2 linked regions of the Homo sapiens genome follow. The protein of the gene in region 1 purifies or fractionates together with the protein of each later gene. This does not show direct contact. Each region holds a gene or a part of one and is shown on either strand. Other genes may lie near its edges. The genes, in order: USP44 and TBL1XR1.

What was found.
Region 2: the proteins of USP44 (region 1) and TBL1XR1 purify together in Homo sapiens (affinity purification with mass spectrometry; 2 studies listed by BioGRID, with this or other methods). This does not show direct contact.

What each region holds. Positions count from the first base shown.
Region 1 is NC_000012.12:95,521,878-95,538,261, reverse strand, and holds part of USP44 (ubiquitin carboxyl-terminal hydrolase 44), read left to right. Parts: intron 1-2,835; exon of another isoform or gene 2,836-2,889; intron 2,890-3,075; exon of another isoform or gene 3,076-3,135; intron 3,136-3,935; 5' UTR 3,936-4,005; coding exon 4,006-5,433; intron 5,434-8,203; coding exon of another isoform or gene 8,204-8,293; exon of another isoform or gene 8,294-8,531; intron 8,532-9,259; coding exon 9,260-9,455; intron 9,456-13,473; coding exon 13,474-13,582; intron 13,583-14,663; exon of another isoform or gene 14,664-14,956; intron 14,957-16,144; coding exon of another isoform or gene 16,145-16,237; intron 16,238-16,384.
Region 2 is NC_000003.12:177,179,126-177,195,509, reverse strand, and holds part of TBL1XR1 (F-box-like/WD repeat-containing protein TBL1XR1), read left to right. Parts: intron 1-16,384. UniProt on the Homo sapiens protein: F-box-like protein involved in the recruitment of the ubiquitin/19S proteasome complex to nuclear receptor-regulated transcription units. Plays an essential role in transcription activation mediated by nuclear receptors.

The sequences.
Region 1 (16,384 bases):
ACTTTACAGATAAGAAAACTGAGGTATGTAGCACGTAATTTATGGTCACATAGTAAATCCTGTCAAGTGTTAAACTCGGGGATTTAGATTCCAGTGTGTGCTCGCTCACCGTTTTACTGTAATCCCTCTCTTCTACCATGATGTCTCAGATAGATGACATCTAATCAAGATTTCACCCTTTTCACAATTTTGTATCAAATAGAATGATGTGTTTAATTATAGATGCCACTTCCCTTTGAAGGTCAAGTACTTTGTTATTATCTAAATAGATTTTTTAGCAATAGCTTCAATGAAACAGGTACTTTTTTTGTATTCAAGGGAATTTATTTGCAGAGTAGAGAAAGGAGTAAAGAGGTTAGTGTACAATTTAGCACATACTTAACACTATCTGAGCTGTTTTTATTTAAAACATGTTATTTTTACAATTTTGAAAGTATAGATTAATAAAGAAAGTACAGTAATTTTCAGTCCCATTACCCAGAGGTAACCTCAGAATAAATGTATTCTCACCAGGCTTTTTCCTACTGATCCTTTTCTGAAAGTGTTAACTCATTCTACGTCTTTAAAATTTTGGAATGAAATGATCTTTTTTGCTGGCATTTCCTTCTTCACCTCTGCAAGGATGTTGAACTAATAATTATTTTCGGCCTGGCGTGGTGGCTCATGACTGTAATCCCAGCACTTTGGGAGGCCAAGGCAGGCAGGTCACGAGGTCGGGAGCTCAAGACTAGCCTGGCCAACATGGTGAAACCCCGTCTCTACTAAAAATACAAAAATTAGCTGGACATGGTGACGTGTGCCTGTAATCCCAGCTACTCGGGAGGCTAAGGCAGGAGAATCGCTTGAACCCAGGAGGTGGAGGTTGCAGTGAGCTAAGATAGCACCCCTGCACTCCAGCCTGGGCGACAGAGTGAGACTCTGTCTCAAAAAATAAAATAATATAAAAATTATTTTCTATGGTTTGCCAGAAACATGTTTAACTAAATTTTCTCTGTATTCATTTTATCATTTTGAATAAAAGGTAATACAGAGCCCTAGATCCTTCCCTTAACCTCCAAATTGAGTAAATTCTCTCAACTAATGTTTGTTAAGCACTAATTCTACCTCTGCCCCCTTCTTCAAAACTGCTATACTCCTGCAGCTTTAATTTCCTTATAATTTCTGGACTGCTAGTCTCTCTTAATCACTCGTCCCTTCTCCAGAGCTCTTTGTAATTCAGATCCCTCTGTAACCCACAGATCTGATCATATCATTCTCCTCTACAGATTTCTTCAGTGGCTCTGTGTTGCTCATAGGCCCTAGAAGCAAGCTTGGGGATGATTAGGGCAAGTAATTCTCTGAGTCCCAGGTACCAGCGAGTGGCCTTAGAAGGGGAGTTGCTGGTGTGTGCAGACTTCAGGTGGCCACATGCCCTTGGCCTTGCTGACTACACATTAATAGAGGAGGGTCACAGCAAGGATCCCCTAAAGTGGTTGTTTAGGTCTAGATGCAGACCATGCTACTGTGTGTTGAGAGTAGACTGTTGGTGGCAGTAAGGACAGAAGTGGAGAGACCATCTGGGAGCCTTACTGCAGTAATCCCGGTAAGACTTGATTGTAGCTTGGATCAGGCTGGTGGCAGTAGAGGCACTAAGTAAGTCAGATTCTCAGTATATTTTGGAGGTAGAGTCAATCATTTTTCCTGAAGGATTGATTTAGAGAGAGAGAGTCAAGGATGACTCTAAGGTTTCTTGCCTCAGTACAGAAAGATATGGGATAGTGGAATATATAAATCACTGATGTCTCAATTCTGCCATTAGCAACTATTGTCAAATCCTAGGTGTTCTAATAAAGTACCATATTTGACCAGATTTTAAACCTCTGGAAATTTTTAGAGAGAGGAGTAAATTTAAAATGTGCACTTAAAACGTGTGAAATGGGGGCTGGGCACGGTGGCTCACGCTTGTAATCCTAGCACTTTGGGAGGGTTAGGCGGGTAGATCACTTGAGGCCAGGAGTTCAAGACCAGCCTGGGCAACATGGTGAAACTATGTCTGTACCAAAAATACAAAAATTAGCCAGGCGTAATGGCACATGCCTGTGGTCTCAGCTACTGGGGATGCTGAGGTGCGAGAATCGCTGGAACCTGGGAGGTGGAGGTTGCAGTGAGCTGAGACTGCACCACTGCAGTCCAGCTTAGGTGACAGAACAAGACCCTATCTCAAAAAAAAAAAAAAAAAAAAAGGAAAAAAAAGGAAAGAAAGAAACATGTGAACATGTGAGATTTGGGACTGGTCAGTACCTGATACCTAAAAATTAAGGAACGAATATGAGATTTTACAAAAAGAGGTGGGAAGGAACCAAAAATCAACTGCTTTTGCAGTTTTCTTAAGGCCTGGAGGTGGCACTTGCAGGTACCGTTGAAATTCACAGTTTCAACTGCCCTAAAAATTTAATGCCTTGGTCATGATACATAGGGTGTTTTTAGTGTTCCGTAACTAGGTCTCCACCCAAACCCTGAAATTTGTCTTTGATTTGTATTAAATCAATGAAAAAAGTGTTTGTGATCACGGCTTTTTAAATAAGATTTCTGTTCATTACATGTAAATAACTTACAGCAGAAGTGTTCCTGACTTTAACTGATAAAGGAACAAGTTCTGTGTCAAAAATCACATAAGCTTTTTTAAAAAAATAAGCTTATAATTTCAGATAGGTTTAGGCCTGCTAGAATGTAATAAAAGCTTATTGCCACCCACTTCATATTCTTCCTTTTTTTCTCTTTATTTCCTTGTATGTTTCTGAGAATATTCAAATACAAAAGCACATTCTCCTCTTCTGTCTTTCTCTTTCCCTAAAGCCAACTGTCAAGTCTGTTCGGCCTCAGAGTATGTTATAGAGCCATGAATTAAAGGTAATTATTGATTTACCAAATGGAAAAAAATAAGTTTAATGGTAATATGATTTATTTAAATAGGGTAATAAGATTCGTTCACTATAGATACAATTAAAACTACCATTTACCATGTGTCAGATAAATATTATCTCTCAGTTCTTCAACAACTCAATTGAAGTTGGTATGATTTTCCCTCTTTTACAGATGGTTTAGAGAAGTTAAAACATTTGCTCAAAATCATACATTTAACAGTGTGTGGCAAAGGTACAATTCAAACCTATGTTTTTCTGCCTTAAAACTCACCTTTTCATCTTTGATTATGTTTTATTAACTCCACATAAGGCTCATAATGTTTATAAATATTAGTGAGATATATTTGGGTCTTGCCAACCCCTGTCATTAAGAAAAGGGGCCAGGCACAGTGGTTCACGCCTGTAATCCCAGCACTTTGGGAGGCCAAGGCGGGTAGATGACCCGAGCTCAGGAGTTCAAGACCAGCCTGGGCAACATGACGAAACCTTGTCTCTAGTAAAAATACGAAAAACAGATTAGCTGAATGTGGTGGTGCACTCCTATAATCCCAGCTACCCGGGAGGCTGAGGCACAGCAATCACGTGAGCCCAGGAGGCAGGGGTTGCAGTGAGCTGAGATCGCACCACTGCACTCCAGCCTGGGCCACAGAGCAAGACTCTGTCTCAAAAAAAAAAAAAAAAGGGAATGCAGTTTTGGAAACTGCCCTCAGACTACTGGGTAAAAAAGGATAGATCTTAAGCTATTTCAGTGGAAAGTGATTACTACCCATTTTTCACCACTAGATGGTGGCAGAAAGTTAAAAACAAAAGCTAAAGGCGCCTCATTAGAGAAAGTGAAGTGTCTGTGCTTTCAGAGCAAGGTGGATGTGAGGTTAGGGAAGTTTAGAGAAAGGGAAATGGGAGAACTGCCAATGGTATTATGATAAGCAGCCTAGAAATTGGGAGCAGAGGACACAAATCTTTATTATTCTTGGGAAAAAATATGAAAAATATTAGCATCTTGTTATTAACACTTGACATTGTTCTGTTTAGTTTTCAGATGCTTCAAGTGTTGTGAACAGAGACTTGTTTGGATTATGCATTTCTCAGCTAGACTAAATAAATGCTAGCAATGGATACGTGCAAACATGTTGGGCAGCTGCAGCTTGCTCAAGACCATTCCAGCCTCAACCCTCAGAAATGGCACTGTGTGGACTGCAACACGACCGAGTCCATTTGGGCTTGCCTTAGCTGCTCCCATGTTGCCTGTGGAAGATATATTGAAGAGCATGCACTCAAGCACTTTCAAGAAAGCAGTCATCCTGTTGCATTGGAGGTGAATGAGATGTACGTTTTTTGTTACCTTTGTGATGATTATGTTCTGAATGATAACACAACTGGAGACCTGAAGTTACTACGACGTACATTAAGTGCCATCAAAAGTCAAAATTATCACTGCACAACTCGTAGTGGGAGGTTTTTACGGTCCATGGGTACAGGTGATGATTCTTATTTCTTACATGACGGTGCCCAATCTCTGCTTCAAAGTGAAGATCAACTGTATACTGCTCTTTGGCACAGGAGAAGGATACTAATGGGTAAAATCTTTCGAACATGGTTTGAACAATCACCCATTGGAAGAAAAAAGCAAGAAGAACCATTTCAGGAAAAAATAGTAGTAAAAAGAGAAGTAAAGAAAAGACGGCAGGAATTGGAGTATCAAGTTAAAGCAGAATTGGAAAGTATGCCTCCAAGAAAGAGTTTACGTTTACAAGGGCTCGCTCAGTCGACCATAATAGAAATAGTTTCTGTTCAGGTGCCAGCACAAACGCCAGCATCACCAGCAAAAGATAAAGTACTCTCTACCTCAGAAAATGAAATATCTCAAAAAGTCAGTGACTCCTCAGTTAAACGAAGGCCAATAGTAACTCCTGGTGTAACAGGATTGAGAAATTTGGGAAATACTTGCTATATGAATTCTGTTCTTCAGGTGTTGAGTCATTTACTTATTTTTCGACAATGTTTTTTAAAGCTTGATCTGAACCAATGGCTGGCTATGACTGCTAGCGAGAAGACAAGATCTTGTAAGCATCCACCAGTCACAGATACAGTAGTATATCAAATGAATGAATGTCAGGAAAAAGATACAGGTTTTGTTTGCTCCAGACAATCAAGTCTGTCATCAGGACTAAGTGGTGGAGCATCAAAAGGTAGAAAGATGGAACTTATTCAGCCAAAGGAGCCAACTTCACAGTACATTTCTCTTTGTCATGAATTGCATACTTTGTTCCAAGTCATGTGGTCTGGAAAGTGGGCGTTGGTCTCACCATTTGCTATGCTACACTCAGTGTGGAGACTCATTCCTGCCTTTCGTGGTTACGCCCAACAAGACGCTCAGGAATTTCTTTGTGAACTTTTAGATAAAATACAACGTGAATTAGAGACAACTGGTACCAGTTTACCAGCTCTTATCCCCACTTCTCAAAGGAAACTCATCAAACAAGTTCTGAATGTTGTAAATAACATTTTTCATGGACAACTTCTTAGTCAGGTATGGATTTTTAAGAATCTTATTTTCATCATTGGGAGTTCATAAAGTGTAGCCTATAAAAAGGCATATTCTATGTACATCTAGTGTGTTGAGCTAGTACCATTTTCAGGTCAAAATAGATTGTTTTTATAAATATGTATAGAGAAATCAGCTCACTCAATTCCTTCTTTCATGAATCATTGGAAGTAGTTTTACATCTATGGTAGCAAAAGCTTTTGGAGGGAGGGAGAAATCAGGAGACGGAGCTCTCTAGGTTACCAATATTACATTCATTATCTGAGGGATTGAGAAGAGGAGGGTTTAATCCCAGAGGGAACGGATTTAAAGATGCTGCTATTCTCGGGATGAAAATGGTGCACATGGCCGGGCGTGGGGGCTCACACCTATAATCCCAGCACTTTGGGAAGCCAAGGCGGGTAGATCAGCTGAAGTCAGGAGTTCAAGACCAGCCTGACCAACATGGTGTAACCCCATCTCTACTAAAAATACAAAAGCTAGCTGAGTGTGGTGGCAGACGCCTGTAATCTCAGCTACTTGGGAGGCTGAGTCAGGAGAATCGCTTGAACCCAGGAGGTGGAGGTTGCAATGAGCTGAAATCACACCACTGCACTCCAGCCTGGGTGACAGAGCGAGACTCCGTCTCAAAAAAAAAAAAAAAAAACCCAAAGAAAGAAAGAAAATGGTGCACACTTGAGCAATTTCAGGGACCAAGGAGTAGCCCTGGAGGACTTCCTATAAAATCAAAGGGTCATGGTCTGAGAGCTTTAACAAGTAGGTAGGGAAATTTTAAGGTAAACAAATGTGATTTCATCTAGAATAATCTTATATGATTTTCCTTTATTTTAATTACTACTCAAAAGTTTCCTTTGTCATGATAAGGTGGACTATAAAACCAGAATCTTCGAAGTAAAGGTTCTCTATACTGAGTGGACTTATTGGTGAACTGTTAATAGACATAAGGTTCTCTACTTTCCCATAACACACAAATTTAAACAAAATTTTTTTTATAACTGAGGCTATTAGGCTTTTAGGTCATTTCCTTCCCCCTGCACACCTGCCTCTGTTCTTCAGTTCAACTTGCATTGTAATAAGGCCATCTTTTGTTTTTATAGCATACTTTCCTAAAATGTTGTTTAAGTATTTCAGATGTAATTCTTCTTAAGGAATATCTATGAAGTTTATTTTTCAGTGTTTCAGAAATGCAAAGATTTTGTGTCAATTAGCAAATAAGAATTGTACTGCAATTTTACTTCTCCATCTTTCTCTGTCATTTCCTTTTTATGCAAAAGTTTTAAAATACACTGTTACAGAGTGCAACATATAGTTGCAGGAAACCTATATAATATAGGAAATCTATATAGAAGGAAAGAAAAATCATTCTCTAATCCTATAACCCCACAATCCATTGGTAAAACTATTTATATTTTGGTATATTTTCTAGTCTTTTTTTCTCCTGCACATGTATAAATATTTTTTCCCATAATTGGTCATTTTGCATTTATCTGCTTTTCCCATTTAATATTGTAATTATTTTCCAATAATTAAAAATATTTCATCATTCTTTTCAAAACATTTCAATGTTCATAATTTTTTTGTGTGTTTTTTTTGGTATATGTCTGCTATTTAACATCATATGTTTTTTTTTGTTTTTGTTTTTGTTTTTTTGAGACAGAGTCTCACTCTGTTGCCCAGGCTGGAGTGCAGTGGCGCGATCTCGGCTCACTGCAAGCTCCACCTGCTGGGTTCACGCCATTCTCCTGCCTCAGCCTCCCAAGTAGCTGGGACTACAGGCGCCTGCCACCACACCCAGCCAATTTTTTGTGTTTTTAGTAGAGACGGGGTTTCACCATGTTAGCCAGGATGGTCTCGATCTCCTGACCTTGTGATCCACGCGCCTCGGCCTCCCAAAGTGCTGGGATTACAGGCATGAGCCACTGCTCCTGGCCACATCGTATGTTTATACCGTAACTTAACCATTCCCCTATTGTTGACTGTTTTTAATTTTTTTCATTATTATAATGTCATCAATTAATTTTTCTGACTTCCTTATGACAGAGTCTTAGAAGTTGACTTTGTCAGAGTAAGACTTCTGATACTTGGTGACAAAGTTCTTTCCAGAAAGTGTTTTTCTTTTATATCTATCTATCTATCTATCTATCTATCTATCTATCTATCTATCTATATTTCCAGTAGTATGAAAGTTGCTATGTGCTTATTTTTTCCTTTATAAATGTATTTTCAAATTAATAAAAATTATTGTACCAGCTTTTTGCTTCTCTTTCTTTAATACACTCTTAGGGAACTGGTTCTCAGGAGATTTAAGACAGTTGGTTGCTGTAATGGCTTTTCCTTTCTATTTTTTATTTTTTTTATAGAGACAAGGTCTCACTGTGTTGCCCAGGCTGGTCTCAAACTCCTGGGCTCAAGCAGCCCTCCCGCTTTGGCCTCTCAAAGTGCTGGGATTACAGGCATGAGCCACTACACCCAGACTGGGATGGCTTTTTGTGTGTTTTTGCTTTTGTTTTTGTTTTTTTTGTTTAATTCAAGAAAATTCTCAAAATGTCTGGCCCTGGCACTACTGAGTCCTTAGACTATAAACGCCAGGAGAGTTCTTTGTGTCAATTTGTGAAATCTAAAATCTGTATTACAACTGGCTTCTTTATTTTGTTGCCTGTGCCAGGACTATAGCTTGTATGAAAGAGGTTCTTTATAATATTTCATATCATATGTGAATTGTTAGTTCATGGAGTCTGTCTTCAATTATGTGCAGTGTTTGTTGGCATTAAATCCTGCTGAATGTTTCACTGAAGTTACTATTCATTTCCTTTCCGGTTGCTACATTGCCTATGTAAGTTGTTAAAACAGCTCCATGTTTTTCGTGTTTTCTGTGTTTGGATGGGGATTTTAATGTTATGTTTGCTTTAAGTAGGAGTATGACATCATTATTTATGTCATATATCTTGTCTTTTGAAATTATCAGTTGTCAGGGCCTTAAAATCTGCATAATGAAAAGATAGTATTTTACTTGTAATATGGTTAAGATTGGATTGGGTTAAGAGGTTATAGGATTTGGGGTTAGGAAGAAAAATCAGCAAAAGATGAAGGAGAGGCCGGGCATGGTGGCTCACGCCTGTAATCCCAGCACTTTGGCAGGCCGAGGTGGGCGGATCGCCTAAAGTCAGGAGTTCAAGACCATCCTGGCCAACATGGCGAAAGCCCGTTTACTAAAAATAGAAAAATTAGCTAGGCGTGGTAGCTGGCACCTGTAGTCCAGCTACTCAGGAGGCTGAGGCAGGAGAATCGCTGGAACCTAAGAGCCAGAGGTTGCAGTGAGCCGAGATTGCGCCATTGCACCCTAGCACTGGGGACAGAGCGAGACTCCATCTCAAAAAAAAAAAAGATGAAAGAAACAGTGAGGAACCTCAAGCCTAATGACATAAATACATTAAACTTAATGCATGTGAATGTACATCATATGTATATATCTATGTATACATAGATATATGTATATATGTATATATGTATACATAGTGTGTTTCTATTCAGTGTGTCCACAGTTTGGATTTTTACCTAAATTTAATGCCCTTAGAGCTTTTTGAATGCCCAGTAGTTAAAGCAACCAATTCATGATGGCTCTGATAACAATCTTTTGGAAGGAAAAATCATAATGAAAGATTTCCTGACAAGAATATAAAGCAGATTATTCAGAATCCTAATGGTGCATTTTCATGAGAAAAGTTTATTTAGTGGCAGTGACCTCTAGTGAAAAGAGTTAATGTTTTGATGGAAAGATTATAATCTTAGGAACTCATATTCTCATTTGCAGGTTACATGTCTTGCATGTGACAACAAATCAAATACCATAGAACCTTTCTGGGACTTGTCATTGGAGTTTCCAGAAAGGTATCAATGCAGTGGAAAAGATATTGCTTCCCAGCCATGTCTGGTTACTGAAATGTTGGCCAAATTTACAGAAACTGAAGCTTTAGAAGGAAAAATCTACGTATGTGACCAGTGTAACTGTGAGTAAAGACGTTGTGTTCTTGGTGCTTTCCTAGGAATGATAAAGAGAAACGCAGATGAGAGGAAGCTGAAAGAAATCTTTAGCAGTTATGAAAATGAACTTTTTTTCAGTTCATCAAAAGAAACAGACGTTTTCACTTTATAATTGGCATTTATGAACTATGCATTTGTTTGGCCATATTGATGGAATTTAAATTGTTTCTGATCTTGTAGACAATTTTGGAGAGAGAAGATTCATAACAAGTTTAAATATGATATGTGGAGCAAAATAAAGTAGCAAAGAGGAATAATGAAAGGAAAGCATGTCATGTAGCATGAATGAAACACTTGCTTTATGAGCTTTTTTGGCTACATATCAAAGTGATATGTAGATAAATGCGTGTGTGTATGTCTATATACATAAAATAGGAAATAATATATGCAGGACTGCTGCTGTGGAGATTGGCTTCATCAAAACAAAGATTTATTCAAAACCATGCACTGTCTCTTCTGTGTTAGTTATTCCCAGTGTCTATAGATAGAGGTGAGATACTGTCAAGGTGCTTACATTCCTAATGGAGGAAGCAGATAGACAGGATCCACTATGATAAGTGCTCTAATGGAGGAGAGCACAGGAACCTGACACTGGGGGTGAAACAGCCACTTCAGTTAAAAGAGAAGCGTCTTCGGCCAGGTGCAGTGGCTCACGCCTGTAATCCTACCACGTTGGGAGGCCGAGGTGGGCAGATCACCTGAGGTCAGGAGTTCAAGCCCAGCCTGGCCAATGTGGTGAAACCTCGTCTCTCCTAAAAATACAAAAATTAGCTGGGCATGGTGGCACGCACTTGTAATCCCAGCTACTCGGGAGGCTGAGGCAGGAGAATTGCTTGAACCCAGGAGGCAGAGGTTGCAGTGAGCTGAGATTGTGCCACTGCACTCCAGCCTGAGCAAGAGTGAAACTCTGTCTCAAAAAAAAAAAAAAAAAAAAAAGCATCTTCCTCCAAGGAAACAGTGTATAAAACCACATCAGATCTGCTGTGTTGGCCAGGTGCGGTGGCTTACGCCTGTAATCCTAACACTTTGGGAGGCCGAGGCAGGTGGATCGCTTGAGGTCAGGAGTTCAAGACCAGCCTGGCCAACATGGCGAAACCCCATCTCTACTAAAAATATAGAAATTAGCCGGGTGTGGTGGAGTGCATCTGTAATCCCAGCTACTTGGGAGGCTGAGGCAGGAGAATCTCTTGAACCCAGGAGGCGGAGGTTGCAGTGAGCCAAGATCGTGCCACTGCACTCCTTCCTGGATGACAGAACAAGCCTCTGTCTCAAAAAAACACACAAAAACATCTACTGTGTCTTTATTTCCTCTGTTGATGTGTATATGTAGTGGGAGTTAAGCTATGAGGATGCAAAGGCATAATAATGATCGAGTGTGGGCTGGGCACAGTGGCTCACACCTGTAATCCCAGCACTTTGGGAGGCTGAGGTGGGCAGATCACCTGAGGTCAGGAGTTCGAGACCAGCCTGGCCAACATGGTGAAACCCCATCTCTACTAAAAATACAAAAATTAGCTGGGCATGGTGGCGTGCGCCTGTAATCCCAGCTATTCAAGAGGCCGAGGCAGGAGAATCACCTGAACCTGGGAGGGGGAGGTTGCAGTGAGCCGAGATCGCGCCATTCCACTCCAGCCTAGGCAACAGTGCGAGACTCTGTCTCAAAAAAAAAAAAAAAGAATGATCCAGTGGACTTTACAGATTCAGGGGAGAGGGTGGGAGGGGTGAGGGATAAAATGCTACACATTGGGTACAGTGTACCCTGCTCAGGTGTTGGGTGCACCAAAATCTCAGAAATCACCACTACAGAACTTATTTATGTAACCAAACACCACCTGTTCCCCAAAAACCTATTGAAATTAAAAAAAAGAATAAGATATACTTACATAGCATCTTAGTATTTATACTATATAAACATATAGTGTAGTATAGTGTAGTGTATAGTAAACTATGCTATAGTTTATACTATGCTATATATATTTTTTCAGGTATTCTCCCTAATTTCCCTATCTCGCAAATAGATTCTAAGGCTTTAAATAACTAAACTTTTAAGGTAAACAAAAAATAGGATATTCCCACATTGAAGAAATGTTATATCAATTGATGGTTTCCTGGAATGACTTTAACACTTTTGTATAAGTGCTGTCTAATGTGAACGCATAAAGTAGCCTTAAATTTATAAGGTTTTTTTTTGTTGTTTTTTTGAGACAGAATCTCGCTCTGTCACCCATGCTGGAGTGCAGTGGCACAGTCTCGGCTCACTGCAAGCTCCGCCTCCTGGGTTCAGGCCATTCTCCTGCCTCAGCCTCCCGAGTAGCTGGGACTACAGGCGCCCGCCACCACGCCTGGCTAATTTTTTGTATTTTTAGTAGAGACAGGGTTTCACCGTGTTAGCCAGGATGGTCTCGATCTCCTGACCTCGTGATCCACCCGCCTCTGCCTTCCAAAGCGCTGGGATTACAGGCGCGAGCCACCGCGCCCGGCCTATAAGGTTTTTTTAAAAAATAAATCTTTGTCAAAGTTGTTATGATGAAGTATTATTTTTTCTTGGACATAAATGTGGTGAGTGCCAAATGCTTTCATCACCAAATTTGGGGGTGATGTTATGAATGCAGAATATGGTTTTATAGCAAATTTCTATGTGTTTACTAAAGCTACCAAATACAGGCCTAAAAGAGCTGCTTTAACACAGCAGTGCAAATGTTTACAATTATATGCCGAGGAGTTGATATCCCCTATCTGGCTACCCTTGGACCGATGTGCTAGGAGACAATCCAGAGGTAGGTCCAGGACATTCAGCAGCAGCCAGATACCTGGATCGCAGGGTTAGACACCTGGAAGAAAGGCCAGCGAAGGTGGCTTAGAGCTCAGCTTCATGGTGGACTGAGCCTGCTTCCCACATGAGAAGCAGCTGCTGCCATGGCTGGAGTCGGAGCTGGTGTACAAGTTGAAGGATAGCTCCTGGACATCAGGAGCAAACTGTAGCTGATGGCCCAGCTCCAGGACAGTCCATAGGTGGACCTCTAGGGAAGCAGAAGGGACAACAAGAAGAATCCTGAGTTCCAGCTGTCTAAGATCTAGTGCTAAAAGAGCAAAAGCAAAACGCTTGAGTGAGGGAGGCCTCAGAACTGGTAAAGTCCTGCTTTCCTAGGCCGTTGGCCAGGGCTGAGGTGGTCCCCAGGAAAAGTGGAGGGATGTTCTGGGCAATCAGGACCTTCCTCTGGGTTTCTGACTAGCCTTGGTAAATGAACTGACCACTCACTTTTTTTTTCTTTTTTCTTTTTTAAATCTTTTGACCACAAACTTTTAAATTAAGAGTTTGGGAAATGTATATTAAAATGTTTAGGGAATGTTGTAACTTTTCCTATTAATTGGTATAGCCAGTTCCATTTAAAAATATTATTATGGCTGGGTGCAGTGGCTCATGCCTGTAATCCCAGCACTTTAGGAGGACGAGGCAGGTGGATCACAATGTCAGGAGTTCGAGACCAGCCTGGCCAACATAGTGAAACCCCGTCTCTACTAAAAATACAAAAATTAGCCGGGCATGGTGGCACGCACCTATAGTCCCAGTTACATGGGAGGCTGAGGCAGGAGAATTGCTTGAACCCAGGAGGCGGAGGTTGTGGTGAGCCGAGATTGTGCCACTGCACTCCAGCCTGGGCAACAGAGTGAGATTCTGTCTCTAAATAAATAAATAAAAATATTATAGCAGTATACTTTGTTCTATCACATTATATGCAAGATTATTATTAAATCATGTACTTGATTACAGATCTGTCTAACTTGACTAGCTCCTAAGTTTTTTGGTTAATTGTGGATCATGAGTTTCTTGAGGGCAAAGCCCATGTCTATCTCTAGCACAGTACAATGCCTGGAACACAGTACATACTTTTCATTTCTGACTTAATTAAAAAGAAGGTTCACTCAGCTTTTCCCTGAATCTTTAAATGAAATTTGATTTTTATTCTTTCTTTGATGTTACAGCAAAGCGTAGAAGGTTTTCCTCCAAACCAGTTGTACTCACAGAAGCCCAGAAACAACTTATGATATGCCACCTACCTCAGGTTCTCAGACTGCACCTCAAACGATTCAGGTCTGTAGTAGGACCAGTTGCAAAGTTATCATTCCTTGTGCTTATAATGCTTCAAAACTTAAAGAATGCATGTTATAATTTTTTCCCCTTACTTTAATCACCTTTCTGACAAATGAATTAACTTTTAATATCATATACTTGGCTAGTAAATGACTTACATTTGCTTATTTGTTTATTTATTTAGAGATCGAGTCTCACTCTGTCACCTAGGCTGGCGATAGGGTTTTACCATGTTGCCCAGGCTGGTCTCAAACTCCTGGGCTCAAGCGATCCACCCACATGGGCCTCCCAAAGTGCTGGCCGGGCAAGGTGGCTCACACCTGTAATCCCAGCACTTTGGGAGGCCGAGGCAGGTGGATCACCTGAGGTTAGGAGTTCGAGACTAGCCTGGCCAACATGGTGAAACCCCATCTCTACTAAAAATACAAAACTGTAGCCGGGCATGGTGGCGCATGCCTGTAATCCTAGCTGCTCAGGAGGCTGAGTCGGGAGAATCGCTTGAACCTGGGAAGTAGAGGTTGCAGTGAGCCGATATCGCACTGTTGCACTCCAGCCTGGGCGACAGAGTGAGACTCCATCTCAAACATACATATGTACGTACATACATACATAAACATAAAAATAAAAATACAAAAATTAGCCAGGCGTGGTGACACACGCCTGTAATTCCAGCTACTTGGGAGGCTGAGACAGGAGAATCACTTGAACCCTGGAGGCAGAGGTTGCAGTGAGCCAACATCATACCATTGCACTCTAGCCTGAGTGACAGAGCGAGACTCTGTCTCAAGAAAAAAAAAAGAAAAATGTTGAGATGACAGGTGTGAGCCACCGTGCCCAGCAGAATATTTCTAATACCTTTGATGTCCCCTGTGTGTGCCTGTCAATCTTGTTCCTTTCCCCTCTTCAGAAGCAAACCATTATGAATTTTGAGTATAGTGTTACCTTATTGTTCTTTATCAGTTTATTGTATCTCTTTTTTTTTTTTTTTTTGGTAGAGACAGGGTTTTGCCATGTTGCCCAGGCTAATCTGGAAACTCCTGAGCTCAGGCAATCTGCTCACCTCAGCTTTCCAATGTGCTAGGATTACAGGCGTGAGCCACCGCACCTGGCTGAGAGATATTGGAAAAACCGAACTCAGTTTCTCCTACCATACTCTTACAACAGAGAATACGAATGTGACCTCTGCTTACCAAAATGTGTAGGAGATTTCTCCCCACCAAGCAAGTCATCAGTTCTGCAGTGGATGCGAGCTGGGTGTCCTCTAATTCAATTTAGTTCTGACACTGTCTACCTGGAGGTAGCATCAGATCCCACAGATGGAGAGCTCAGTCCCACAAGACTGACCCCCACTTCAGACCCCAGTCATAACTCCAGGTTTGTGGAAATTGTGACCAACCTGTTGGCTGTAAATGTAATGGGATTCCCACAAGCTGCTCCCCTGGTTTGATTAATTTTCCAGAGGGCCCCCACAGAACTCAGGGAAACCTTTGTGTTTACCCATTTATTACAAAGGAGAGTTTCAAGGATCCATATGAACAGCCAGATGGAAGTCATGTGTAGGGCATGGCTTGTGGGAAGGGGCATATAGGTTCCACACCCTCCCTGGGGGTGCTGCCCTCTGGGGACTTCAGCATGGTTAGCTATCCGGAAGCTCCAGAAGCCCATCCTTTTGGGTTTTTATGGAGGCTTCAGTACATAGGCATGACTGATTACATCATTCAGCCCCATTCCCTTTGGGGGTTGGGGGCAGTGTTTGGAAGGAAGCTGAAAGTCCCAATCCTCTAGTCATTCCCGGGTCTTTCCTGTGACTTGCCCACATCCTGAAGCTATCTAGGGGTTGCCAGCCACTAGTTGTCTCATTAGCATACAAAAGACACACTTTTTTTTTTTTTTTTTTTTTTGAGCCAGAATTTCGCTCTTGTCGCCTAGGCTGGAGTGCAATGGCGCAATCTCAGCTCACTGCAACCTCTGCGTCCCGGGTTCAAGCGATTCTCCTGCCTCAGCCTCCCCAGTAACTGGTATTACAGGTATGCACCATCAAGCCTGGCTAATTTTTGTATTTTTAGTAGAGACGGGGTTTCACCATGTTAGCCAGGCTGGTCTTGAACTCCTGACCTCAGGTGATCCACCCACCTCGGCCTCCCAAGGTGCTGGGATTACAGGCGTGAGCCACCACGGCCAACCAAGACACTCTCATCACTCCAGAGATTCCAAAAATTTTAGGAGATGTATCTGAGGAAACTGGAAGGAAAACCAAATATATATTTCACAACCCCACAGAGAGATTGGAATATGACTTATGGTCCAGCAGATAACATAATTTGAATGGTTCATCTTTAGTTCCGTGCCATTTTACACTGGACTAAGCATTTTCACTTTTTTTTTTCCATCATAAAACTATGTTCTTGTCTCTCCCTTCTCTACCTGCTATTGGTCTGAACCTCATGTTTTAGTACTTTACTACTATATTTTTATCTATGTCTGCCTTGTCTCTCTACCATACTACCCCAAACTGGATTATAATCTCTTGAACTACCATGTTACATTATTTTCCCCTCGTAGCACCAACTCATTATGCATATTGATAAACACATTGCTTGCCATGCTGAGATCCAGTAATGGGAAGTATGACCAGCAGACTGAGAAAATAACAGGGTAAGGGCATTCTTTCAGTTCTGTCACCAATGGGCGGTTGTGCTGACTTACACACAGCGAGGGGACACAGTTCCTGTTGTTTTAGTCTGAAAATCTCTGAAGTGTTCTGAGGAAATAGAGATGCCCTGTTTTGTTTTCCTCCATACC
Region 2 (16,384 bases), on another chromosome or scaffold:
GACCCATGCTACATTGATGTATTTTAGTAATGCCGACTTCCTGGGATTGTATGTTCTCACCATTTTAATAGTTTATAGTCTGGGGAAGTAGGGCACCTTTGTCTCCCCGAAAACATGGTGTGGGTTGGGTGGTATCATGGGAGTTGATGGCAAGCTTCCCAAATAGTTGAGAGTTCTAGAAATAGTTAGCATTTACCTGTGGGGGAGGGGCTGCAGGAAGAAAGTATGCCTGAGAGCAGTTAGGCGTGTGATGTGTGATTAGGCTTCTTGCTCTTAAATCCAGGTTTTCTTGTTTGGAATATGATTTTTTTTTTCAACCCTATCCTGCACTGAGATGTATGTAATCGCAATCATTAAATTCATAAATAACTACTATTTTTTTTGACGTTTGAGTTGTTGGAATCCGACCTACAGGACAAAATACTAAACTGTATGGGGGACGAAAACTACGTGCCTGGGAAAAGTTTTTCTTATTGCTAAGGAACTTAATAAAGTGACATGTTAATGGCATAAAAATTGTTGCAAAGCTCACCGTCAGTTTATGACATTTTTCTTTTAACGTATACCAGCTTTGGGTATTAATGTGGGAGACACTGGTGGTAAATGGAGTGACCCCTTGCAGAGATGATATTTTTGCATTGGTTGCTTCAAAGAAGTGTTAAGCATTTTAATACGTATGTCTAAGAATCTTTTTGATATTTGTATTCTCGACACCTAATTAAAGGTTTTGCATGATTACCATGACACCAGTCTCCCGAAAGAATTAGAGGTAACTGCTTCCTGTGTTCTAGGAGCCTTTCAAGCTAACAGAAGGTAATATAAATATAAGGGGTACTGATAAAAGGAAATGTATTAATAGACCTTTTGAACATCAACTTGTTGATTAAATCTATCAGTGCAGTATATATACAACCTTGTCAGACGAGTAGCTGACAAAGGAATCTCCCTAGTACAACTTGTAGCAGTACTATTATAAAGAATTCCTGACTTGACACATTTTGATGAAGTTGGTTGAAATAATTTGTTGGGTTTGTTCAATTTTTGGTGTCATTTATATAAAAAGAATAAAGAAGAATGTGAATGGTAGGAAGTCAGGGGAGAGGCATGGCAGAAACATTGGTATTCACTAGAACTTGTATTTTTCTAGTGCATGTGAATTGGACTCATTTCACAAATAACATTTACAGTATAAGTCACTGAAATGCAAAAAAGGAAAGCAGCTAACACGAGACATTTATACTTTATGCTCAGACATTCTGGTAGTAGAGGAGGGCTAGGACCCTAGAGCTGTGTAGTAAAGAATTGTTGAGTATCGTTCAGTTTAGGTACCACGAAGGTGGTATCTCCTGCTCTGCCACCAATAGAAACTTGAAGTTAAAAAGAAAAGACTCTGAGAGCGCTGATGCTGGAGAGATTTGGCTGTTTACCCCTCTGGGATTGGATTCGGTAAGAGTGCAATTAATTGCCCTGTAACCATAGAGCCAGAGGAGAGGGACTAGGTGCTCCGGGCTATGCTCTAGGAGGTGTGAGGTGCTTTCTATGCTGTTTATACCCTAGGCTAATCCTATGAGGTAGATAGTGTTGGGCTTTTTTTGTGGATGATGAAACAGAGATGCAAAGAAGTTAATTCCCTTGTTCAAGGCCACAAAATTATTAAATGAACACTAGGATTCAAACCTGGGTCTGTCTTAGATGACTGAATCTGCGGAATTTTCCCAGCTGTTTTGTTAGTCTTGATCCGTGTAGATCATCCTTCCAAAAACTTGTGTTTCTAATCAAGTTTATGATCTATAGTTGAGCGTCTGTACTAAATGGGTCGAGTGATTACATGGGTAAATGAAATTGATAGAACTCATATCATTGTGCTGAATTCCCTAGCACCATTTAATAAGATGCAGTCTTGCTGGGTGCAGTGGCTCACGCCTGTAATCCAAGCACTTTGGAAGGCCAAGGCGGGCGGATCACGAGGTCAAGAGATTGAGACCATCTTGGCCAGCATGGTGAATCCCCGTCTCTACTAAAAATACACAAATTAGCTGGGCGTGGTGGCGGGTACCTGTAGTCCCAGCTACTCGGGAGGCTGAGGTGGGAGAATCGCTTGAACCCAGGAGGTGGAGGTTGCAGTGAGCCAAGATCGCGCCATTGCACTCCAGCCTGGGCGATAGAGGGAGACACCCTCTCAAAAACAAACAAACAAAAAATTTGTGTAAGAAAAATCATTGAAGTCTTTGTGTTGTAGCATAGTGGTTAAAGTGAGTTCAAACTCAGGCTCTATCCTTTACTAGCTGTGATGTTGGGGTAGTAGCTCCTCATACGTTTTATTTATTTTTTAAAATTTTATTTTATTTTATTTTTTTGAGACGGAGTTTCGCTCTGTTGCCCAGGCTGGAGTGCAGTGGCGCGATCTCGGCTCACTGCAACCTCCGCCTCCTGGGTTCAAGTGATTCTCCTGCCTCAGCCTCCCAAGTAGCTGGGATTACAGGTGCTTGCCACCACTCCCGGCTAATTTTTGTGTTTTTAGTAGAGATGGGGTTTCAGCATGTTGGCCAGGCTGGTCTCGAACTCCTGACCTCAGGTAACGTGCCTGCCTCGGCCTCCCAAAGGGCTGGGATTATAGGCATGAGCCACATTGCGCCTGGCCCTAATGTGTTTGTTTCTTCATCAGTGTAAGGGGACAGTCAACTTTCATAGAGTTAAGAAGATCCAGTTAGTGTGTGAGAGGTACTTAGAACAATGGTTGACATTCTAAGCATCCTGTAAGTGTAAGTTGCTCCTGATAGGTTTGATTTTTGAAGTTTGTTTCTTTGTATTACATTTTATTTGCTTGTTATTTATTTTAGTAGGGGCATAATGTCATAGGAAGGATTTGATAGCTCCATTTCCTAAGTAACCCATTTGAAGTAAACTTAGCTTGGTTTTTTTTACTCTTAAAAAGTTGTGGTTTAAGGCTTACATATACTATGAATAATTTACATGATTGGTGTAGGTACGGTGGTGGATCTTTTTTGCATGCCTTTGTTGCTATTCTGTCATCTGGGTTGGACTTCTTAAGCCTACTTGCACCATTTGAAACATTTTTCAACTTACTTTCTTTCTTTTTTTTTTTTTTTTGAGATAAAGTCTCACTTTGTTTGTTGCCCAGGTTGGAGTGCAGGTTGGAGTGCAATGGCGCGATCTCCTCTTACTGCAACCTCGCGCCTCCTGGGTTCAAGCGATTCTCCTGCCTCAGCCTCCTAGCTGGGATTATAGGCATGCGCCACCACGCCCAGCTAATTTTTGTATTTTTAGTAGAGACGGGGTTTCACCATGTGGTCTCCATCTCTTGACCTTGTGATCTGCCCGCTTTGGCCTCCCAAAGTGCTGGGATTACAGGCGTGAGCCACCGCGCCCAGCTTCAACTCTTTTTTTTTTTTTTTTGAGACAGAGTCTTGCTCTGTCACCCATGCTGGAGTGCAATGGTGCGATCTCGGCTCACTGCAACCTCTGCCTCCCGGGTTCAAGCGATTCCCCTACCTCAGCCTCCCAAGTAGCTGGGATTACAGGCGCCTGTCACTTGCCTGGCTAATTTCTTGTATCTTTAGTAGAGATGGGGTTTCACCATGTTGGTCAGGCTGGTCTCGAACTCCTGACCGCCCGTCTCGGCCTCCCAAAGTGCTGGGATTACAGGCATGAGCCACCGTGCCAGGCAAACTCTTTAAATACAAAGGGAACTCTTTCAAGGTTTGGGTCCAGCAGAACCTAGGGTCTGCCTTTTAGGCTGTAGTGATTACTTTGGGTAGGTGGTTTTATTTTATTTTTCCTGACCACTTTTTATCTGTGTATTCTTTTCCGTATTATCAGATGCTGTCTAGATAGTTGTCCTTAGAAGTTCAGTTCCTCTATGAGCCTTATCTTATGTTCACTTCCCATTTTTAACCATACTTAATTTAGCACTAGTGTTCACTTTGCTAATAGTCAAAAGTTCTATGTATCAGGACTATACAGGTGCTTTGACAAGTACTGTGACAGTCTGAGTGCTGATGCCTGAATTTAACAGTGAGAAAATTGAGGCTCAGGTAGTAGGGGACAGAGCAGGAATTTAGGCCCAGTTTGTGTGAATTCTAGGCCAGTGTTGTTACCTAGCAGTCTGTCTTCTCAATGAATGAATGGTTGTAGGTCTGGATTATTAAGTTTTTATTTGGTTGCCCTGAGCAACCTTTCTTATTCATTTTATCTTCTGTAACTACTGACAGTGTAATTTATTTAAAGTACTGGTTTCATCTTGTCAGTTCCCCTGCTGGAGAACCCATAATGGATTCTCTTTGCCAACTGGATTGAATTTGTATGCTTCAGTCTGGCTTTTAAGAAGGTTCCATTCTACCTATTCAGCTTTATTTCTCACTCTTAGTTGGGATTCTTGCCGGCCTCTCAAATACGGTAGTTTTTGCCATACTCACTACTTTGCTTTTGTGCATGCTGTTGTTCCCTTTGTCCTTCTTATAGCCTAGTTTCAGTCCCCCTTCTTCCATGAATCCTTTTCTGGCCATCCTGACTCAGGATATTTCTTCTCTGAGATTCCATTGCACTTAATGAAGATCACAAATCCCATAACTGTTTATTGTTTTGTTGCCCCAACTACGATGTTTCTTGAACGGATGGACCTTTTTCCTTCCAGCATTTGGCAGAGTTCTTAATACCATTTTCATGTTAAAATGGATTGTGAGGGCCTGTGTTAAAATGGGAGCAGTGACAGCCCTGTTCCACTGTAATGTGGCAGCATCTTCTTTTTGAGTTAGACCTTAAAGATTTAGGTGTGCTATAGTCACATTTAACTGTTCATTTAAATTTTAGTGCTGCCAGAGTTGCAAAGGAAGAAAAATTTGTTAGTTTCTTAGATGAAAATGGATGGTTTTGACTGGGTACGGTGGCCCACGCCTGTAATCTCTGCACTTTGGGAGGCCCAGGCAGGGGGATCACCTGAGGTCAGGAGTTTGAGACCAGCCTGGCTAACATGATAAAATGTTTAGCTCTACTAAAAATACAAAAAATTAGCTGGGAGTGGTGGCACACGCCTATAATCCTAGCTACTCAGGAGGCTGAGGCAGGAGAATAGCTTCAACCCGGGAGGCGGAGGCTGCAGTGAACTGAGATTGCGCCACTGCACTCCAGCCTGGTCAACAAGAGCATCAACTCCGTCACATACACAAAAAAAGAAAATGGATGGTTTTGCCCTTTTAATTCTGGAATAGTAGCCACAGTACTGGGGGAAAACCTAGTCTAGTTAGGAATTGTGTCACAGTAAGTTGACTTTATCTGGTTATATATGTGTCAGGTAGTTAGGTATAATGATGCTTAAGATTTTGGACTCTTTTTTTTTTTTTTTTTTTTTTTTTTTTTGAGATGGAGTTTCACTCTTGTTGCCCGGGCTGGAGTGCAATGGCACATGCTTGGCTCACTGAAACCTCCGTCTCCTGGGTTCAAGCGATTTTCCTGCTTCAGCCTCCCCAGTAGCTGGGATTACAGGTGTCCGCTTACACGCCCAGCTAGAACTTTATTTTCTTAATCTGTTAGGTTTTTTCTTCATTATTTCCTTAGTAGTGTACCTAAGTTAAGATAGTGTTTTTAGATCTCACTGTTTTACAGCATTCTGACTGCACTGGAGTTTCATTTGAGCCATTACTATTAATTTATTAACATTCAGTATAGGATATATGTATTATACAATGTAAGTGAGTTTTATCTACCAGAAGAATGTCTCTTAACCATCTCCCTTCAGTAAATTTTTATGGTAAGACTGTGCTGTATTAGTTCCAGCCAACCAGGGTAATTGACTATAAAGGCAACTAATTTGGTGTTACATCCTTCTTTTTTTTTTTTTTTTGAGATGGAGTCTTGCTCTGTCTCCCAGACTGGCTGGATGTGATCTCCGCTCACTGCAACCTCCGCCCCCTGGGTTCAAGCGATTCTCCTGCCTTAGCCTCCCAAGTAGCTGGGATTACAGGTGCTGGCCACCACGCCTGGCTAATTTTTTTGTAATTTTAGTAGAGATGGGGTTTCACCATGTTGGCTAGGCTGGTCTTGAACTCTTGACTTCAGGTGATCCACCCACCTTGGCCTCCCAAATTGCTGGGACTAACAGGCGTGTACCACCACGCCCAGCTAATTTTTGTATTTTTAGTAGAGATGGGATATCACCTTGTTGGCCAGGCTGGTCTTGAACCTCTGGGCCTTGTTATCTGCCCACCTCGGCTTCCCAGAGTGCTGGGATTATAGGCGTGAGCCACCACACCTGGCCTGAAATTGTTATTTCTTATTTTTATTTTGAGACAAAGACTCATTCTGTTGCCTAAGCTGGAGTGCAGTGGCATGATCTTGGCTCACTGCAATCTCCACCTCCTGGGTTCAAGCGATTCTACTGCCTCAGCCTCCTGAGTAGCTGGGACTACAGGAACGTGCCACCATGCCCGGCTAATTTTTTTGTATTTTTAGTAGAGATAGGGTTTCGTTATGTTGGCCAGGCTGGTCTTGAACCCCTGACCTCGTGATCCACCCGCCTCGGCCTCCCCAAGTGCTGGGATTACAGGCGTGAGCCACCGCACCCGCCCAAAATTTTTAATATTTATGTATAGAATGTAAGCTTTTCAGCATGATTTTGAATCAAACAAAATGAGTTAGATTGAAAGCTCTGCTTTCTGAGAGCTTAGATTTGTAACTCAGAATTAGTGTGGACTGTAAGGATCATGCTGAAAGGTTAATACATTTTGGTAAACATAGAGTACCCAGATTCAGGAGATTTATGTGAAATGAATAGGTTTGAGGGATGAGGGAGGAGGAATACCTGTTGAACATTTAAACTGTGAAGTTTGCCACCTATTTTCCCCTTTATTGAAGGTTTCAGGAGGTAGAATTTAAAAAAACAAAACTCTGGGCTGCAAGGGTCAGAGATGGTCATTACGGTATCTTAATAGAGTAATTTCTTTTTTTTGACGGAGGTTTGCTCTTGTTGCCCAGGCTGGAGTGCAATGGCGCAATTTTGGCTCACTGCACCCTCCACCTCCCAGGTTCAAGCAGTTCTCCTGCCTCAGCCTTCTGAGTAGCTGGGATTACAGGCATGTGCCACCACACCTACCTAATTTTGTATTTTTAGTAGAGATGGAGTTTCGCCATGTTGGCCAGGCTGGTTTGAACCTCTGACCTCAGGTGATCTGCCCACCTTGGCCTCCCAAAGTGCTGGTGGGATTACAGGTGTGAGCCACTGTGCCTGGACAGTAATTCTTTTTTATATGAAATTGTATTCTCTGGGCCGGGCACGGTGGCTGATGCCTGTAATCCCAGCACTTTGGGAGGCCGAGGTGGGTGGATCACGAGGTCAGGAGTTCGAGACCAGCCTGACCAACATGGTAAAACCCCGTCTCTACTAAAAATACAGAAATTAGCCGGGTGTGGTGGCATGTGCCTGTAATCCCAGCTACCTGTTAGCCTGAACCTGGGAGGTGGAGGTTGCCATGAGCTGAGATCGTGCCACTGTATTCCTGCCTGGGCAATAGAGCGAGACTCCATCTCAAAAAAAAAAAAAAAAAAAAAAAAGGAAATTGTACTCTGGACTCTCAAGCTTTTTTTTTTTTCTTTTTAAATGTTTAAAAATTTTAATTACCTTAAAATGGTGGATTTTTTTTTAACTTTTTAATAAACTAGGTGTCAGTCTATTTGATATCTTCGGTATTTTGTCTGAGATCGGATGTGGAATCAATAAGTGCTTTTTTTCCTGATAACCTTTTGTGTTTCTCTTTTCTTCTCATTGTGTCTTTTTCAGCACAGTGGAGAGCGGGACATTGTAAAGAGACATTCAGTGACTCAGTTTTTGAGTGGATGCTTTTGTTTTTTGTTCTTAGTTTGCATCTGCTTGAATGGGGTAGCATTTTAACATGGGTCTAATATTAAGCAAACAAGTATTTTTAAACCAATTCTTTGTAAAGCCATGGTTACATGAGTAAATCACTTAGCTTCTATAAATGTCTATTAAGATGATCAGATGAAATGTTACCTGAAGTTCTCTTATTTGTGCAAATACTTGAATGAGTATACTCGATACTTCAATTCCTTTATTAAGATCCTAGGATTCTTTTTTTTTTTTTTTTTTGAGATAGAGTCTCTGTTGTCCAGACTGGAGTGCAATAGCACAATCTTGGTTCACTGCAACCTCTGCCTCCCGGGTTCAAGCGATTCTCCCTGCCTCAGTCTCCCGAGCAGCTGGGATTGCAGGCGCCCGCCACCACACATGGCTAATTTTTGTATTTTTAGTAGAGATAGGGTTTTGCCATGTTGGCCAGGTTGGTCTCGAACTCCTGACTTTTTTTTTTTTTTGAGACAGAGTCTTGCTCTGTTGCCCAGGCTGGAGTACAGTGGCACGATCTCGGCTCATGGCACACTCCGCCTCCCGGGTTCATGCCATTCTCCTGCCTCAGCCTCCTGAGTAGCTGGGACTGCAGGGGCCCGCCACCACGCCCGGCTAATTTTTTTGTGTTTTTAGGAGAGACGGGGTTTCATCCTGTTAGCCGGGATGGTCTCGATCTCCTGACCTTGTGATCCGCCCGCCTCGGCCTCCCAAAGTGCTGGAATTACAGGCGTGAGCCACCACGCCTGGCCGAACTCCTGACTTTTAAGTGATCTGCCAGCCTCAGGCTCCCAAAGTGCTGGGATTACAGGTGTGAGACACCACGACTGGCCATGATTTCAATTTTATGAGTTTTGACGGGGATCTATATGGAAATTTTTTTTAGAGTATTTAAGTACTAAAAATCTACAGCCTTTCATAGAGTAATAGTCTGGAAAGTATGTGACATGAGCATAAGCAAACACCTTGCCAGATGGGGTATAGTAATAACATATTTTAGTGGTTACCTTCAACTGTGAATAGAACACAGTTTATGGGTTAGGGAGAGATGTTTTATTCTCTTCCTTTAATTTCAACAGGCTAATTGGGAAGAGTGTATACTAATGTTGCTACATTTCTGTTTAGTGGCTATCATATGTCATTAACTCACAGTATAAGGCAATTGACTCATCTACTTTGGGTTTCTGAAATAAGGTAATGAGAATAGATAATGAATTTATCTTTTCTTTTTCTGCAATTACCTTTTTATGGGGCAGAACTTATAAAAAATAAGGATTTTAGGATACGATTTGTAGCTGTAGCAGTGCTCTTTGGCACTCATTCATATAACAATGTAATATACATGCTTAAGATTTTTCCCCTAGTAAAATGATGGGTTTTCTTTAAATTACTGTTCTCTGTCCTCTTTAGTAACGGATATACATTTGTAAAATTACAGACTGGGGTTAGGAGTGCAGACTGTTATTGTATTGTGTTCTTGTGCAAAAAAACCCCAGGTGTATCATGGGAATACATCTTTGACCTTGGACTTCCTTGTGTCCTGCTGGCAGAGGTCACTAGTTTTGACACCTGGTGAGAGATGTGAAGTGTTCCTTTATTTACTTATATTTATTTATTTATTTATTTGAGGCAGGGTCTTGCTCTGTCACCTGGGCTGGAGTGCAGTGGTGTGAACATGGCTCACTTTACCCTCCAACTCCTGGGCTTAAGCAGTCCTCCTACCTCAGCCTCCTGAGTAGGTAGGACTACAGACGAGCAGCACCATGCCCAGCCAATTTTTTTATTTTTAATTTTTTGTAGAGAGAGGATCTCACTATGTTGCTCAGGCTGGTCTCGAATTCCTGGACTCAAGCAGTCCTCCTGCCTCCCAAAGTGTTGGGATTATTGGTGTGAGCTGCTGTGCCCAGCCAATGCTTCTTTTATATATTTATTTAGATTTGGTGTTTGATTTTTTTGTTAATAAGGGACCTTCTCAAAGATACTTTTAAATGAAAAGACAAAGGGTCAGAAAATACTGGTTTTTTTTTTTTGGAAACAGTCTCATTCTGTGACCCAGACTGGAGTGCAATGGCGTTGATCTTGGCTCACAGTGACCTCCGCTTCCTGGGTCCAAGTGATGCCCCTGCCTCAGGCTCCTGAGTAGCTGGGACAGGCTCATGCCACCATGCTTGGCTAATTTTTTTGTACTTAAGTAGAAATGGGGTTTCGCCATGTTGGCCAGGCTGGTCTTGAAATCCTGACCTCAAGTGATCCATCCTCCTCGGCCTCCCAAAGTGCTGGAATTACTGGCGTGAGCCACTGCCCCTGGCCGGTTGGCTGCTATTTTAACTTAAGGGGTAGAAGACTGGAAAGGAGGACACATGCAATACAGTGTGTATGAGTATGTGTGTATTTATATATGCTTGTTGTGTGTGCTTAGAGTGACTCTAGAAAGCTGTGGAAGAGACTGATAACAATGCTGTTGGGGTAGGTAGATTATGTAGTCAGATGTCAGAGAGACTTATTTTCATGTGTAACCTTTTGAACTGTTGATGTTCTTATTACCATTTTGAAAAAAAAATTGAAAAATCGAGGCATGTGGTTAAGCTTTTAAAAACTTTATTTCTTTGGATTTGGATAGGATGGTCAAAAGAAGGGGGAAAATGATGTTAATTTCTCCTGTGCTTTTCAGTCAGTTCTTAAAGAGCTGTAACTGTATATTTCTGTAAACACTTATTTTCATTTTTCAGACTTGTTGGCAGAATTAGAGTAGTGGTATGATTAACAAGTGTTGTTTCTGTTTCATGACTGGGTCCTTAGACCAGTGGTGAATCAGTGATGATTTTTTTTTTTTTTTGAGCCACAGTCTTGCTCTGTCTCATCCAGGCTGGAGTGCAGTGGTGCGATCGGCTTACTGCAGCCTCTGCCTCCAGGGTTCAAGTGATTCTCCTGTCTCAGCCTCCTGAGTAGCTGGGACTACAGGCATGTGCCACCATACCTGGCTAATTTTGTATTTTTAGTAGAGACGGGATTTCACCATGTTGGACAAGCTGGTCTTGAACTCCTGACCTAAGGTGATCCACTGGCCTCTGCCTCCCAAAGTGCTGAGATTACAGGCGTGAGCCACCGCACCTGGCCAACTGGTGAATTTTGAATCCTATCCAAGCTTGATACTTAGAAAATAATTTAGTGCAAACTTTAGGAGGTTTTGGTTGTCCAGAAGTACTACATTTTGTCTTATTTCAAAGGTATTGCTTTGCCAAGGGTTTGGACATTAGGTGAATATTGGGGTTCTCATAGTGGTTGACTTTAATAATTATAGTATTTGGCACAATGGGATTTGTGGAACTATGGCTTCTGATACTGCACCGATCCTGTCATGACTTACAAACTTAGATGTATGTGTTATTGATGTCAAGGTGACAGATATATTAGATTTTAATGCTATTTTTGGTTGCAGTTGGTGTCATTTGCAATTGTGTCACTTGCAGCTTTTTGTTGGCTATTTAGTTTACCAGTAAAGGGGCTTGCCTTCTAGTTGTGCTCATTTTCAACTTCAACTGGAGCAACCTCAGAGAAAGGGAGCACCTGTTTTGGTGCACAGAATTGTGCTGCACTGTGACTTTGACACTAGCCTTCCTTTGAGGGCACTGTCATGGCCCTCTTCTCAGCAGTAACAGGAGACTAGGTAGGAGAGTCTTTGTCTCATTTTTGGCAGTGAACTCTCAGTATGTTACTGTGGTGAAGAGCTGGTCTCGAGCTCCTGACTTCAGGTGATCCACCTTGCCTTGGCCTCCCGAAGTGCTGGGATTACAGGCGTGAGCCACCATGCCCGGCCGATTAGATGTTTCAAGAAAAAGAAGATTGTACCTTTCTTAAAAATAAAGTTTTTTGGTCGGGCGCAGTGGCTCATGCCTGTAATCCCAGCACTTTGGGAGGCTGAGGTGGGTGGATCACCTGAGGTCAGGAGTTTGAGGAAAAAATTCGCAAGGTGTAGTGGCGGGTGCCTGTAATCCCAGCTGCGGAGGCTGAGGCAGGAGAATCACTTGAACCCGGGAGGCGGAGGTTGCAGTGAGCCAAAATCGCACCACTGCACTCCAGCCTGGGTGAAGGAGTGAAACTCCGTCTCAAAAAAATTTTTGCTTTCCGGAGTGGAATCCCTACTTTTCTCCAGGCAACACTGCTCTGGTTGACAACTGACAACTGCTTTATCAGTCACTTCAAATATATATGTTAAATTTTACACAAACGTTAACATGGATTCTCACTAAAAATCCATATGGCACAACACAGGGTATGTATACATGCAGAAATAACTGAAGGGTTATCAGGAACTTATGCACACACATTTTCTGTACTCTTCATTTAAAAACATGCTTTTATAAACCTAAATGAATTTTATTACTTAATTTTATTCAGTGAATTTAGAAAATACTCGTTCAAAGGAGTATAGAATTGTACTTTTCTACTTTTATGGATTTAGAGTCAGTACTCAGAAACGTCGACGTTCTGAATGACAGAGCATGGATGAGTTACATTTATTGGTGCTAATGTCTTTAGGTTGTATTCTGAAGCTGTATGAGGATTCTGAAGTTATGGTGCCTCAATTTTGTAAGGCATACATAAGAAGTAAGATACAAATGATAAGGAATTTTGATTGCTCTTAAATGTAAATTTAAGAGTTTTGGAGGGAAAATCTGAACAGCTGTAGCTTAGGAACCCTGAATGCTTCTCATAAAGGACAGTACTTAGAAGAATGACCATTATATAAAGTTTCTTATATCCCATTAGAGAAGAAGTTTGGATAATTATATTGTTTTAAAAAAATTTACATGCCATAACATGTTGCCTGCATGAAGTTACACTATTTGATTGAAGATTAAGCATTAGGCTTCTTTCCGTGACAGTCTTAAATTAACATCCTTGCCAATGATGACCACTAGTCATGTGTTTCTAGCACAGGCCTCTCCTTGATTGAGAGTTATTTGTTGCCTCATCTCACTAGGCAGAGATCCTTCCTTGAAAACAGGTCTCTCTCACCCATCTTGACCCTCAGCATCTGGTACAGTGCCTGGCACTCTTTAGCCTTTCCATTGTTGAGTTGAATCCTATGAGGCTCTGACTGAGGTATACGTTTGCTAGTACAGTAGACTCTTGTTGCTTTTGTGAGTGATTCACATATACAAAACTGGAAAGGAGATACATCCAGTTTCACAAATTAATTGTCCTTAGAACTTACTGTGTTCCTGCTGTCAGAGTTTTCTTCTTTTTCTGAGACAGGATCTTACTCTGTCACCCAGGCTGGAGGGCAGTGGCACGGTCATGGCTCACTGCAGCCCTGAACTCCCCGGGCTCAGGTGGTCCTATCACCTCAGCCTCTTGAGTATCTGGGACTACTACGCCACCATTCCCGGCTAATTTTTGTGTTTTTTGGTAGAGATGGGGGTCTCACTATGTTGCCCAGGCTGGTCTTGAACTCCTGGGCTCAAGTGATCCACCTGCTGTAGCTTCCCAAACTGCTGGGATTACAATAGGCATGAGCCACTGGGACTGGCTGTGCTGTAAGAATTTTGAGGGTCTGCTTGATAACCTGGCACCCTGCTCTTTGGTTTTTGTCATCTGCAGAATCCTTTTGGCTTGAAAACAGTGTAGAACTTGCTAGGGGAAACAAGGAATATACTCAAAATGTGGGTAAAAGATTCAAAGACCTTGGCCTGACCGTAGCAGTTAAACCTGAATTGGGGTGTTATTTGGGCTTGCCCACTTCTTCCTGATATTTATGTATTCTGCAGTCTCTTTAGACCCTTCATCATGTGTGTGTTTTTTTTTTTTTTTCCTAACTTGAACCCTTACGTTTACCTGATACTGGCATATGATTCTTGCCTGGCTTTTTTTCTGATTCATGGTCTTGCATACCCAGTCCATACATCTACTGCTGCCCTTCTCTTTGACTGTGGTTTTCCCTCAGAGGTCAAAGGATGTGTATACTCTGTGTCCTTTGTCTCTTTAAACCAGTTGCACAAGTGATTCTGTGGCCCAGATTGGTTCTTCCGACCTCCTCCTCTCCTGATCTGCTAGCATGGAATCTATCACAATCTAGCATGGGGACATCTTGTATTTTCCCGTGTTTTCTACTGTTGAGTGTAGGCTGGCAGAGGCGTTCTTTTTTTTTTTTTTTAAGACGGAGTCTGGCTCTGTCACTCAGGCTGGAGTGTGGTGGCATGCTCTTGGCTTACTGTAACCTCCACCTCCCGGGTTCAGGTGATTCTCATGCCTCAGCCTCCTGAGTAGCTGGGATTATAGGCGTGTGCCACCACACCTGGCTAATTTTTGTATTACTAGTAGAGATGGGGTTTCACCGTGTTGGCCAGGCTGGTCTGGAACACCTGGCCTCAAGCGATCCACCCACCGTGGCCTCCCAGAGTGCTGAGATTACACCTGCGCCAGTTCAGATTTTCATTTAATGACAATGAGTTGCGACAAGACAGAGTTGGAGAATAGAGGAGGTTCAGAGTTGGAAGAAATGGGAGTAGGTGATGGCAACACCGAGTTGTCAGAGTGAGCTGAGGCAACATCCTCTACTTCTAGCTCACTGATGAAAATATCCAGGATAGCGGGTCTGGGGTCCAGTGCCATGGGTCACGCCTCTAATCCTAGTACTTGGTGGTAGGCCGAGGTGGGTGGATCACCTGAGGTCAGGAGTTCAAGACCAGCCTGACCAACATGGTGAAACCCCCGTCTTTACTAAAAATACAAAAAACTAGCAGGGCGTGGTGGCCTGTAATCGTAGCTACTCCAGAGGCTGAGGCAGGAGAATCCCTTGAACCCAGGAGGCAGAGGTTGCAGGGAGCTGAGATCATGTCATTGCACTCCAGCCTGGGTGACAAGAGCAAATCTCCGTCTCAAAAAAAAAAAAATTCCAGGGTAATCTGAGATCTTGGTATTTAGAGACATTTGGTTGGGATGAGGGGTCTTGGTAGATTTGATTCTGTTATCATTTGGAACCTTCCAAAGTAGAGGATGACGCATTTGTTTTTGAGCTACTTTCTAGAAACCAGAATTTACTGTCAGAGAATATAGGATTTTCGGTTTTAAAACTTTGAACTTAAAATGATTGCAACAGTATTTTAGTGATATTCTAAAAAATATTTAAAAATAAAAGTTTAAAAAAGTCGTCAGCAGATTAAAAAAACTCCAAGGAGAGTAATATTTAAATGAGTAACATTTTTGTTTTCCTCTGAATGTTGTTAAAACAGACAAGGTACTATTAAATGGGGGGGGGGGGAATGAACGTATTTATGGGCTTTTCCCTTTTTTACCCTTTGTTTACTTGTCTGTAGATTAAAGTAGGTACTTTAATCTTTTGTATCTCTGGGCTCTGTTTCTTGTAGTGGGTATGCTTTTTTTTTTTTTTTTTTTTTTGAGACGGAGTCTTGCTCCGTCACCAGGCTGGAGTGCAGTGACACGATCTCAGCTCACTGCAACCCACGCCTCCCGGATTCAGGCAATTCTCCTGCCCCAGCCTCCCAAGTAGCTGGGATTACAGGCACGTGCCACCATGCCTGGCTAATTTTTTGTATTTTAGTAGAGATAGGGTTTCACCATGTTGGCCAGGATGGTCTCGATCTCCTGACCTCATGATTGCCTGCCTTGGCCTCCCAAAGTGCTGGGATTACAGGCATGAGCGACTGCACCCAGCCTGTAGTGGGTATGTTTTTTAATTTGTTGCTTCTCTACTTGGTTTGTTCCCTTTTTTGTGTCAGATATGCTGGTGAATCTAGCTGCCTCATTTTATCTAGCCTCATTTGCCTTTCTTGCGTTTTCTTCCAGATGATTCATGTGTATTTTGCTAGTAGATATATCGGTTGGTTGGCTCCTTTGTTCTGACAAATCAACATAGAAGTGACTTGTTACAAGTGAGAACTGGTAATGACAGGAACCATAACAGCATGCTAATGGTCTTTGATAAATATGGTGAATGCACATGGTAGAATTTAAAGGTCTTGGTTTGAAGCCCTCCCAAGAGTAGTTGCAACTTTGAGGTTGGGTTTAGGAATAACTTCTGCAACCTTTAGCTTCACTCCTGGGAGAAACTTTGGATACATTTTACCTGCCTCTCTTGAGCTTCAGTTCCCATATTTGCAAAATGCCATGACTTATCTCTTAAGAATTTAGTTAGAATAAAACAGATACCGTAAGTTAAAAGAATACTTGGTTGTGCTCCAGCGTGTGTCTGTATCCGGAATAGGCTCATATGTAATTGGTAAATACGAGAATTATGTCAGTACAACAAGGAGATTGCTCTGGTTCATACGTGATTTTCCCCAGCATATTCATGTTTTGCATCAGGTAACAATAGTCGAGCTCAAAGTACACTAAGAGCTGAATGAAACAAGCCATGGTGGCCACTTGTGAATTCTTCCTGTTGGCCTAGTTTGGCCATGTTTTTAGTCTTTGAAGTTTTTGGAGGGGGTTGTTGTGCGATTCTCCCCCATCTCTTCACAGCCCCAAGTATCTTTTTTTTTTTTTTTT